Regions from separate parts of the Homo sapiens genome. Here region 2 is linked to region 1. Evidence: fine-mapped expression QTL. Tissue or cell type: whole blood. Region 1 holds a variant in brackets; the other region holds the start of a gene. All regions are shown on one strand. Distances are from middle to middle.

Region 1 (5,147 bases):
CGAGACCAGCTTGACCAACATGGTGAAACCCTGTCTCTACTAAAAATAGAAAAATTAGCTGGGCATGGTGGCATGGGCCTGTAGTCCCAGCTACTTGGGAGGCTGAGGCAGGAGAATCACTTGAACCCAGGAGGCGGAGGTTGCAGTGAGCTCAGATCGAGCCACTGTACTCCAGCCTGGGCAACAGAGCGAGACTCTGTGTCAAAAATAAATTAATTAATTTAAAATTAAAATTTTAAAATGTTTTATAAGTAAAAGTAAATATAGTATGACCCCATCTTTTAAAAACATAATTCTTGTAAATCAGAGGGGAGACCATAGGGTCCAATCCCTCTATAGACTTAATGCACAGTTTAGTGCTCAAAATTAATACAGAATAAATTCCATTATTTGATCACGTATTTGGAAGAACATTAAAAGACTCTGGGTCATAGTCGTGTTAGCTCATCTCAGAAGCCCCTTCCTCCACATCTGATTATTTAGAGAGCCTCAAATGTGCTAATCTCTGAAAACTCTGTTGAATTCCCTTCCATAAGGCTTTTCCCTGTCTGGACGTCTTCCTTAGCCCATTCCATTCCTTCATCATGCAGATCAGCTTAGCTCCTCTCAGCAAGTAATAATTGTTCCTCTCCCTAGAAGAGAGAAGTGAAGGAAACCAAATAGACAAATTCAAGATTTTCTTCAGTAGACAGGGGCAGGAAGAATGCTAAGAGCATGACCATGTTAACAATTTTAGCTCACATAAAAACATATGTCTGTATGCACAGAAAATAGTATGGGAAAAATATACAAAAATGTTATCAGGGCTATCACTGGTGGCGTGGTGACAGGTGATTTTTGTTCCCTTCTTTATTTTTTTTGTCTGAATTTCTTTTTATAGAGCATGTTCTACTTTTATATTCAGAGTTTTTTTTTAAGTCATCATACTTCAGCATATTTCTTTTTCTTCTTTCTTTTCTCAAGATCTAGCAAAGGATAAAGAGAATTCAGTTGCAAAATCCAATCCTCAACACAGGATGATTTATCTTTTTTTCTTTAATTTTAGAACTTTAAAAAAGTAACCCCCTTCCACACATACCAGCATGAATAAAAGACTATTCCTTTGTAGGTTTATGAATTCACTCATAACACGCAACTGTGCAAATTCATTTAAAATTAAGTAGCCTGAGCACGTGGTTAAGGACTGAGTTTGCTCCAGGGGCCAAGGTCAGTCCCTCCACAGTAGGAACAGCTTTTCTGCAAACAGTTTCCCTGCAAACTCCCCTTCCTCACAGAGAAGCTGGCCCAGGCACCATGCAGCCTGGCCACTGAGGTGTTGGTGACCCCACGCTGCCACACTGGCGTTTCCATAACCCCCTTGTGTGAGCCTCCAATGGCCGGAGGGGCCTTGGCTGTGGGTGTGAAGACAGTGGGGGCCCCTGCTCTGCAGACTTGCGGTGCGAAAACTCTGGGGTCTGAGCAGGGTAAAAATCACTCTGCTGCCTGCTTTCCTCTTCCTGCTGGGTTCCTCCCAAGCTGCTCTCCCATCTCCCCTGGGACCTCTCTGGCCAGCTCAGCTTTTGTGTTTGGGCCAGGCGGGAAGAAGCACTTGGCCCGACTCCTTGCTTGTCAGAAGTCCAGCATTACCAGGGGTCTTGCCTGGTTTCAAGTATTTCCCGGTGCCTTTCCTCGCTCTGTAGTCAAGTTTCTAGCCAGGATTTCTTGGCTCTGGGAAAGATTGAATGCCTGTCTGAGCCTTCTGGGCCTGTGTTTCATTTGCAGCTGCCTGGCCCTACACTGGGTGACAGTCTCAGCCCTCCCCAGGGCAGCCCGTCCCCTCCTGCTTGGCCAGCAGAGGAGGCCCTTTGTGTCGCTGTCTTGGTGCTGGAGTGGAAGTGAGGCTTCTAATTATCGTCCCCAGCCCCGTGTCCTGGGTTTACTTCGGCTCCAGCCCAGCGTCAGGGGCAGCACTCCCTTCTGAGAGCAAGCAATTCCTGCCTGTCTGTGAGACCAAGCAGACAAGAATGCCAACCGCCAGCAGCCCCAGCCCCTAACTGTTTCTAAGTCAGACTAGGACCTGTTCAGAACCTGGCACTTTCCTGCTAGAAATTTCCAGCTGCTCTGATCTTTCCTGTAGGGCTTGGCAAGGCCAAAAAGGTCTGGAACCAAAAGAATTCATAAGAACATCAGGCCTGGGCCGGTGGGCACCTCTCCCTCTGTCTGCTCAGGGACTCCCCAGTCACTTCCTACTGTTGGATTCATCCAGGGTGAGGGCCTGGTGGGGCTGCCAGGCCCTGAAGTCCAAGCTCAGGGAAGCGAGAGCAGTTTACCTCTGTGACATTGCTGGTGTGAGCCAAGGCTGCGGGTTCCAGGAGCTAACTTGGGATTCCGTTCAGGACATGACACAGAAGTGAAGAACTCAGGGAACTTCATATGTCCCCATCACCATAGGTGACCTGTGCCCTGCCATCATGGGGGGTGACGGGAGGCTATGAATGTTAACATAATGCAGACTGACAAAGACATCCTCTTTTGTCTTCCTTCCTCTTTGAGACTAGAATGTATTTTCTGAGCTCTCCTTTGCTTTGCTTTTCTTTTGGGTACCATGACCCAAGGTACAGTATAAATACGTCAGTATTTGTAGCCTGTAGAAGGTCACTCAAGAATGTGCATTTGTAACCATCTGGGGAGAAAATAGGCTTTGTCAGTGAGTGTTTCCTCTGGTACACTTATTACACTCTAGCAAGTATCATGTACGGGAGATGAAACAGGCAGCTGAAAGGTGTCCCGCCTGTGCACCTTCCTGCTGGCCCAGCGTCTATTTCCAGCCTCCTCTCCCAGGGTTGCTGAAACCCGGAGCTGATTTCTACATTGGAAGTTAGGAGCTGCAGGAAACGCCTCGTGCCGTGCCGGGGACGTGGAGGAAAGCCAAGTGCCCTTGATAGGCTCCTCCTCTGGAGCTAGGGAGTTCCCTGGATGGTGGCAGGAGGAGCTGCGGTTCTGCAGCTGCTGCGGGCGGGGCAGCTGCTGGCGGCACTGTGTCTTGGGTTTGACCTTGACCCCTGGGCAACACAGGGAGACTTTCAC[A/G]CCCTTCACCCTTGCATCACTCCACTCAGAGGTGCGCAGGGCCCAGCCCCAGCTACAGATGAGGAGACTGAGGCTCGGAGGCTCTCGGACCGCCCAAGGTCTCTGGGCAGATCAAACGGTGGAGAGAGGCCAGAGCCAAGTGTCTTGGCTCCCGGGCTGGGAGAGGCCCCGGCGTGGCCCTCTGGAGGCCGCCGTCTGCGACTGCCCGGGCGCCCTGGGGCGGCAGCCTGGCCTCCTGGGCTCGAGGCAGGGGGCAGAGGTGTCCCGGCGGGGCCGGGGCCGGGACACGAAGAGGGAGGCGAGCAGGGGCTAGGAACTGGAGCCGGTTTGTGCTCGCGCGCCTGCAGGCCCTTTGCCTCGGGCACCCCCGCTCCAGCCCAGCGGGGGCGGCGCCGAGAGGGGCCCATGGCCCAGACGGAGGCTCGGGCTGCGTCCATTGGCGGCCGCAGCCCCGGGGCGGGAGGGGGAGCGGCCCGGCGTCGGGTTACCGGGGACCAGCACGGCAGCTGGCCCCGGGAGGCAGCCGCGGGGTGAGGGTGCATTCTTGGATTCCTGGCCGGGAAGGGAAACCAAACCGCACTTGTATCCAACGCAATCAACAAACATGATGTGTCAAGTGCTGTATTGCACTTGAGCGGGTGTAAAATGGTAGAGCTGGGGTTCCTGCCCAAACGTTCGTCTAATTGAGGAAATAAGAAATCCACAGAGAAGAAGAACGCTGGAGATACCGGGAAGGACATAATAAACCCCGAGAACCACGACCAACCGAATTTAGAGGGGTTCCTGGAAAGGGAAGTCTGTTTTTCCCCAAAGTCTTCTGGAAAGCTTCCACAACAGGGCGAGGTGAGGGTATCCGACCTGCCACCTCCCTCCAGGGCCTGCCACCTGCCCCAGCCGCCCCCACTCACCACAGCACACATGCCCGACCCCACACTGCTGAGCACCCAGCAGCCAACCCTGCCTCCACCCTGCCTGCGCTCCCCAGTCTTACCCCAGGCCTCTACTCTCAAGCTCCTCCAAAACTAGGACCCTCACTTTCTTCTTCCAGAAGCCCACCTGCCCCCAGGACACTGCTGCCCTATAGCCCTCTCCAGTAGAGGCTCTTTTCTCCCTCCAGCTATGCAGCTCAGGGCCTGAAGATGTACTCCGCATTGATCACTGAAGTTTCTAAACGGTTTCTCCTTCCTCTTTCAAAAGCCCGGCCTCTTAGCACAGCGAAACTACTAGATGTGATACTATAATGGTGGATAAATGTCATAATACATTTGTTCAAACCTACAGAATGTACAACAGCAAAAGTAATGTAAAGTAAGAATAAAGCATTCACATCAATGTAAACTGTGGACTCGGGGTGATAATGTGTCACTTAGGTTCATCAATTGTAACAAATGCTGGTGGGGAATGTTGATAGTGGGGGACACTGCTCCCAGGAGGGTGGATATATAGAACTCTGGATTTTCCACTCAATTTTGCTGTGAATCTGAAACTACTCTAAAAAGTATTAAAAATTAAAAATATTTAATTAAAAAAGCCACAAATCACCCCTCCTAATGTCATCTGTCACCCTCCTAGTCACTTCCCCCAACCCTTGATTATTTTAGTATCAGGCTCTATCTCCTTTCATATCATCATTTTTGGTGACTTCAGCATCTATGCTGATGACCCACCCAACACTCCGATCTCTAAGACTGTTAATATCCTTAGCCCTAGCAGAATATTCCTCCTGCCCTGCCTCAGCCTCCTGGTCATATGCTAGATCTTGGAACCATGAATGTCTACACCATCTCTAAACTCTCAGATCCAGAGATCCCTTCACCTATCAGTCCTCCAGGTCACTTACTTTAGTTCTTGGACTCAGCAATTTTCCCATCTCAGACCTCTATTCCATGACTCTCCTGTTTTCTCATGACATCTCTCCCCTCAGGCCTTCGTTCTCAGCCAGCTGAGAACTGAAACTCCATGCTCCAGCACACAAAATCTCCCTGGCAAACACTCCTACCTTCCTTGCTCTGGTCTCTCTCCATTGTATTCACTGGGCGAAAACCCAGCTGTGGTTAAATCAAACTGTTTACTTCACACCT
Region 2 (5,147 bases), 210 kb before region 1:
TTTCTTAGTTACTAAAATGTAAAATATTTTGTCTGAGGGTAAACTTGTAGTATAATTGGACACTGATAATAAAAGTAGCATGCTGCAAGTTGATAGAAATTTTTATGTATTTGCATTCGAACATCTTCAAACTGCCTTCATACGTTTTGTAATGTTTTTTGTGTGTGATGCATGTGTGTGCCTTTCTAAAGTAGTGTTGTAACTTACTCTGCCATTGGAACCCTGTTTAAAATAGCAGATACCATAAGCTATCAGTCGCCACACAAATTTGAATGAGTTTTAAAATATCAAAATATGTGCTATTTTACTAGGCTCATTATCAGTAATAATTCAGTGTGTAGCAACTGGGCAAAATTCATATTTTAGCTTCTCAATTAAATAGAAAAGCTTTAAAGAGGGACAATTCAGCAAACAGAAGTGTAAAGATTTTCTAAATCTGAATTAATATCCTTCTCTTAGTTCTTCAAGGGAAACAAGCTTGAGCAGCTGTTACCTAAGACGCTGTGACATTCGCCTGACAATAAAACCGTTCCCTAGGACACCTCCTGTCACACATACACTTGGTTGGCTTTACAAAATGTGAGTCCTCTCCCTTACCTGTCTGAATGAAGTAAGGAAAAGGGCCGGGTGTTAAGGAAAAAGGGGGTTGGGGGATGTCAAATCCAAAATAAGATTTCTCATCTGAGAACAACATGGTTATGTATATTTTAATTAGGGGGTGAAACAAGTAAAAAAAAAAAACTGTTAAAGGATTCCAAACTTAATGAACGACATAAACAATTTTATATTAACATATAATACCCCTCTAAAGAAGTCAATGAAGCTAAAGGAAAACTTTTAAACATTTGTCTCTTTTAAATAAAAAGAAAAAAAACCCTGAAAAAATAAACAGAAAAGCAGAGATCCACAAACAAACTATTCTTGTTCACTCCAGAAGTTGGGATCTTAGGATGGATATTTTCATCTTCACAGCACACCCTAGCACACTCATATCAGAATAGACTGCTATAAAAAGGGGGAGGGATGGGAGCTGCCAGGGTGAGACATGCCTTCTGCTGAGCTGAGCAACTACCCCCAACCCCCATCGGCCAAGCAGCCCAGACGCTCTCAGGTGGACGGTCCTTCAGGGGCGGAGCGAAGCCCAAAGCCCACTTCACTCTTGTCAGGGACTAGTCTCTAACTACAAAAAGCTACTGTGAACACTTAGGGCCTCAGGAATCCTGGTGACTACAACTTCTAGCCTCTTTACACACATTATGGATATTTCTTAACATACATTGGGAAATCAAAAAGCGTATTTCATGAACAAAGCTTGAAAACATGTACTCTCTACCCTAAGCCCAACTGAGGCTGCCCAATTCGATTCAAATAAAAACTGCTGTGGTCTGAGGCTGGCTGTCTCACTCTGCTGACTGTCCTCCCCATTCAGTGTCTGTGAAAACTTACTTTCTACCTCCTGAAACGACTCGGCTTGCAAGCAAAAAGTTATTCCAATGCAAACTATACCTGATATTTTCGTGAAACTTAGAAACTAAACCTAAAACTCGACTCCCATCGCAATCTATTACTACCACTTCTGCTAAAGGTAACTTATAGCCAAGAAAACAAAACAAAATACGATTTTCTGTCCATGTAGTGGCCCTGTGACGACACCCCCTCTCTTACTGGTACAAAGTCTAGGGCTTGGGACAGCTGGCTCCCCTCAGCCCCCTCCCTTTCAGTCATAGGCGGTTACCACGAAGATGACTTGTAGATTTCTAACTTAAAAACCAACGAGACGTTAAGTTTAATATACATGTAGATCCCAAATCAATTCATTTGGGCATGGACGAAAGAAAAGAGGGTGGAGAGGAAGGTTTTCAACATTATTAAAAAAAACACCGGGAAATTCACAAAAACGCACTACAGTAAGTTGGATGCAAACCCGGCCACGGAACTCAAAAGTGAAGCAGCCTTCGCGCCAGCAATCCGAGCCTTAAAAAAAGTCTCGCACGTTCACAACAACACAACCGCCACAACGCGCACACACATCCCAGCTGTAGAGGCGACAGCTCCAGGCGCCCCCGCCCGCCGCTCGGCTCTCCGAGCTCCCGACCCCCTCCTGACCCCGGCCCTGCCCCCCAGCGGCTCAGCCCGCAGGCGCCGGGGGTCCGAGAGCGCGGGGCCCGGACCGGGGCCGCGGGAGGGAGCGCTCCTCCCGTACCTGCTCCGTCCCCGGCTCCCTCCCGCGGCGGCGCCCGGCCCCTCCTCCGCCCTCCGGGCTCTCCCAGCCCTGGCCGAGTCCCAACACCGGCCCCCCATCCACCCGGAGCCCCCCGCGCCCGCGGATCCCCTCCAGCCCGACGCCGGGAGAACTTACCACATGCAGCTCCACCTGGGAACTAACGCATCAGGAGGGGTTTCCGCCCACTCCTCAGCTACTCCCGCTCCATGCGGAGTGCCCCGCTCCAGGGGCCCGAGGGTGGCGCCGGGGAGCGGGCAGCAGGCGAGGCTGAAGCTAAGACTCCGCCGTTCTCTGCCTGCGCGCCCCGAGCATTATACAATGGTGGAGGCGGCGGCGGCAGGCAGCGGAGGAGGAAGCAGGAGGCGGGCGGAGGGGGCGCCCTGACCGAGCGAGCGGTACGTCGTGCTCCAGCACTCGCCGTGCAGGAGTGACGTGCGGCCCGCGAGCCTCCCGCGAGCTCCGGGCCCCGGCGCCGCAGGCCCCGCCCCTGGCCGCCCGACCCCGCCCCCGCCGGCCCCGCCCCGGCCCGCCTCTCCCCGGCGGTCCCGGGAGGCGCGATAAAGGCCGGGGCCGGCCGCGGCCGGCCGCGGCCGCAGGAGGAGCAGGAAGGGGCGGCGGGGCGCAGTGGGCGCCTGGTGGCAGCGCCGCCCCCAGCTCCCTGCCGGGCCGGCGCGCCCCTGATTTTCTCGTAAGGACGGGCTGAAAGAGGAGGGGAGACAGAAGGAGACACTCCGGCCCGAGGACCACCACTGCCACTAGTAACGCCCCCTACACACTCTAGAAGTGCTCAGGCGAATGACGAAGCGGCTGGTGACAAAGGCGGCGGCGAGTGCAGCGCGTGCACAGCCCGCGGAGCCGCGCGACCGCAAATATGACAAGCATTTGAGCTATTTGGCAACGTGGGGCCGGTCAGCGGGGCGGGCAGGGTCCCCGCGGGGGGCGAGGGGCAGAGAGCTGGCCCGGGCGCCCGTCTCGCTGCCTGCAGGGGTTCCTGGGCGGGGGTCCGCTGCGGGACACTCCTCCGAGGCCCGCACTGGTCCGAACGGCAGGATGGGGGCTCCAGCCGTGAGCCGGGGACAGAAAAAGTCCCTTGCCCGCGTGGCCTCAGCCCGACACGAGAAGTGGGTCACCAAGTCCACGGCACTTTGGGAGCCGGACCGAACGAGTTGCATCCTTCGGGGCCGGCCGGGGCTCGGTGCAGACCCGGCAGGAGGGAAGCCAAGCTAGGAGACGCAGCCAGGTCGGAGGCGCAGTCCTCTGCCCACAAGTTTCACATTGATAGCCTTTCCCTCCCGTGGAGTAAGCTTATGCTTGGAACTACTTAAATTTACCAGGGAAATTTATACTAGTTGGAAGAGAATGTGTGTATGCCCAAATGGTGAGAATTTAAGAGCACTAGGGAAAGAGGCCAGATAGATGGTTCCACTGGAAAATTAATGATTATTTTAAAAATTACACGTGCATTCAGCGTCAAGATGTAAAAGGCAATGCAGGCAGGCACCTTAAAATTTTGGCTGCCACCCCAATCAATATCATTTCAGATCACTTTGGAGTTTAATGGTCCACTATACTAGTTGTATTTAAGAATAATAAAGCTTTAAGACCTAACATAAAGGCGATTGTAAGTCGTTAACATCAAGAGAAATTTAGACTTGTTTAAACTGTTCTGTAATGATTTGTTATCAATCAAATTGATGATCTCATCGAAATTAAACTTGTGCTGAAATGTTGATAGAGGAGACAACGCTTCTTGTTTTATCTTTAAGGAGGATGGAAAAGGTTTTTACTGGACCCTCAGTATAATTAAAGTCTTATACAGTATAACCTAAGCCAAAAGCTAATTATTTGTGGATATCTTTGCAAAGTCTCATTATAATGGCATTCAAAATGACATATTATGGAAGCTGTGCTCACCGGCCCTCTGCAGGTCTTGCTCAGTTTGCGCCTGAGTGGCATAACATTCAAACATTTTGCTGTGAAGCGAAGATATTTTTCATTTCCAGAGTTCTGCAGTTTAGAGAGGGCATTAACTACTAACAGTTTCCTAACCACCCACTCACTTATACTTTCAGTGCTCACTTTAAGGAAAAGCCATTGAAATAGAAGCTGCAATAATCTCTTCCTGTGATATCTTTGTAGAGGAGGCCAGAGGCATTAGCTCTGTTGAATTTAAGGTGAATTTAAACTGCTATTTGTGAATTTAAACTGCTATTCTTGAATTAAAGTAAGCAGGAAGTTACACTTGCAGAACTTTTGTGACACTTGGATATTTTCTAGCAAATAGATTACACCAAATGCAGTGTTTCTGTATAAAATAACAGGATTTAAGTCAAAGTGACAATTTTGTGTCACTAGGATAGACAGGATTCTGCTGAAGTCCATAAGGTCTGTATTCTGTACCTGCTCAAACAAAGGTTTGCGCTCTTAACGAGACCAGCAACCTGCGTTTTTGGAGTGAAATAGTTTCCATCTCTTTATACCTCTGAAGGCTGTAACATCTTATCAATGTACACATTACAAATAGCTCCCACTTCCCCCACTTTTAGAATCTGGCATCTTTGACCAAGAAGTTAAAGTGAGCTGGCAGTTTCAACAGCTGCCAATGTGGTTAACACCAGCTGGTTAACCCTCTCCCTCCCCTTATGCAACCCCCTACCCCAAGGCTGAGCCACACATAGGCCAGGACAGCAATCTCTACCCAGCCCTAGAAATTCAAGTCTATGAGGATAAGGAAAGGCACTTTCCACACTTCTGAAGTCAGCTCCCTTCAGTATGCAATGACATGATTTGAAATATTTATTCAATAAAATATTATTTCAAATCATGTCATTGAATAAGCAGTGTTTAGTGAATATGTAAATTTTGTTCTCACTCTTTGGGAGATTTAAAAGCCCATTTAAGGGCTGGGTGCAGTGGCTCACAC

The links. PIP is the estimated chance that this variant, and not a neighbour inherited with it, causes the effect.
Region 2: it holds the start of SERTAD2, and the variant in region 1 is fine-mapped to the expression of SERTAD2 in whole blood (TOPMed, PIP 0.98).

What each region holds. Positions count from the first base shown.
Region 1 is chr2:64,856,453-64,861,599 of GRCh38, forward strand. The region is part of intron 1 of LINC01800 (long intergenic non-protein coding RNA 1800); the gene reads right to left. Among named protein-coding and RNA genes, the nearest start is that of LINC01800, 4.6 kb to the right of the region's middle. RefSeq lists silencers at 2,843-3,137, 3,175-3,694, 3,454-3,657 and an enhancer at 3,985-4,204. The variant A/G (reference allele first, on the strand shown) is at 3,067.
Region 2 is chr2:64,651,261-64,656,407 of GRCh38, forward strand. SERTAD2 (SERTA domain containing 2) reads right to left here and starts at 2,653. Exons shown (of 2, transcript NM_014755.3): 1 at 2,360-2,653. LOC124907776 reads left to right here and starts at 2,811. Exons shown (of 1, transcript XM_047446580.1): 1 at 2,811-3,963. The coding sequence starts at 3,020. The coding sequence ends at 3,451. RefSeq lists silencers at 1,617-1,696, 1,997-2,326, 2,435-2,729, 2,467-3,286 and an enhancer at 4,068-4,227.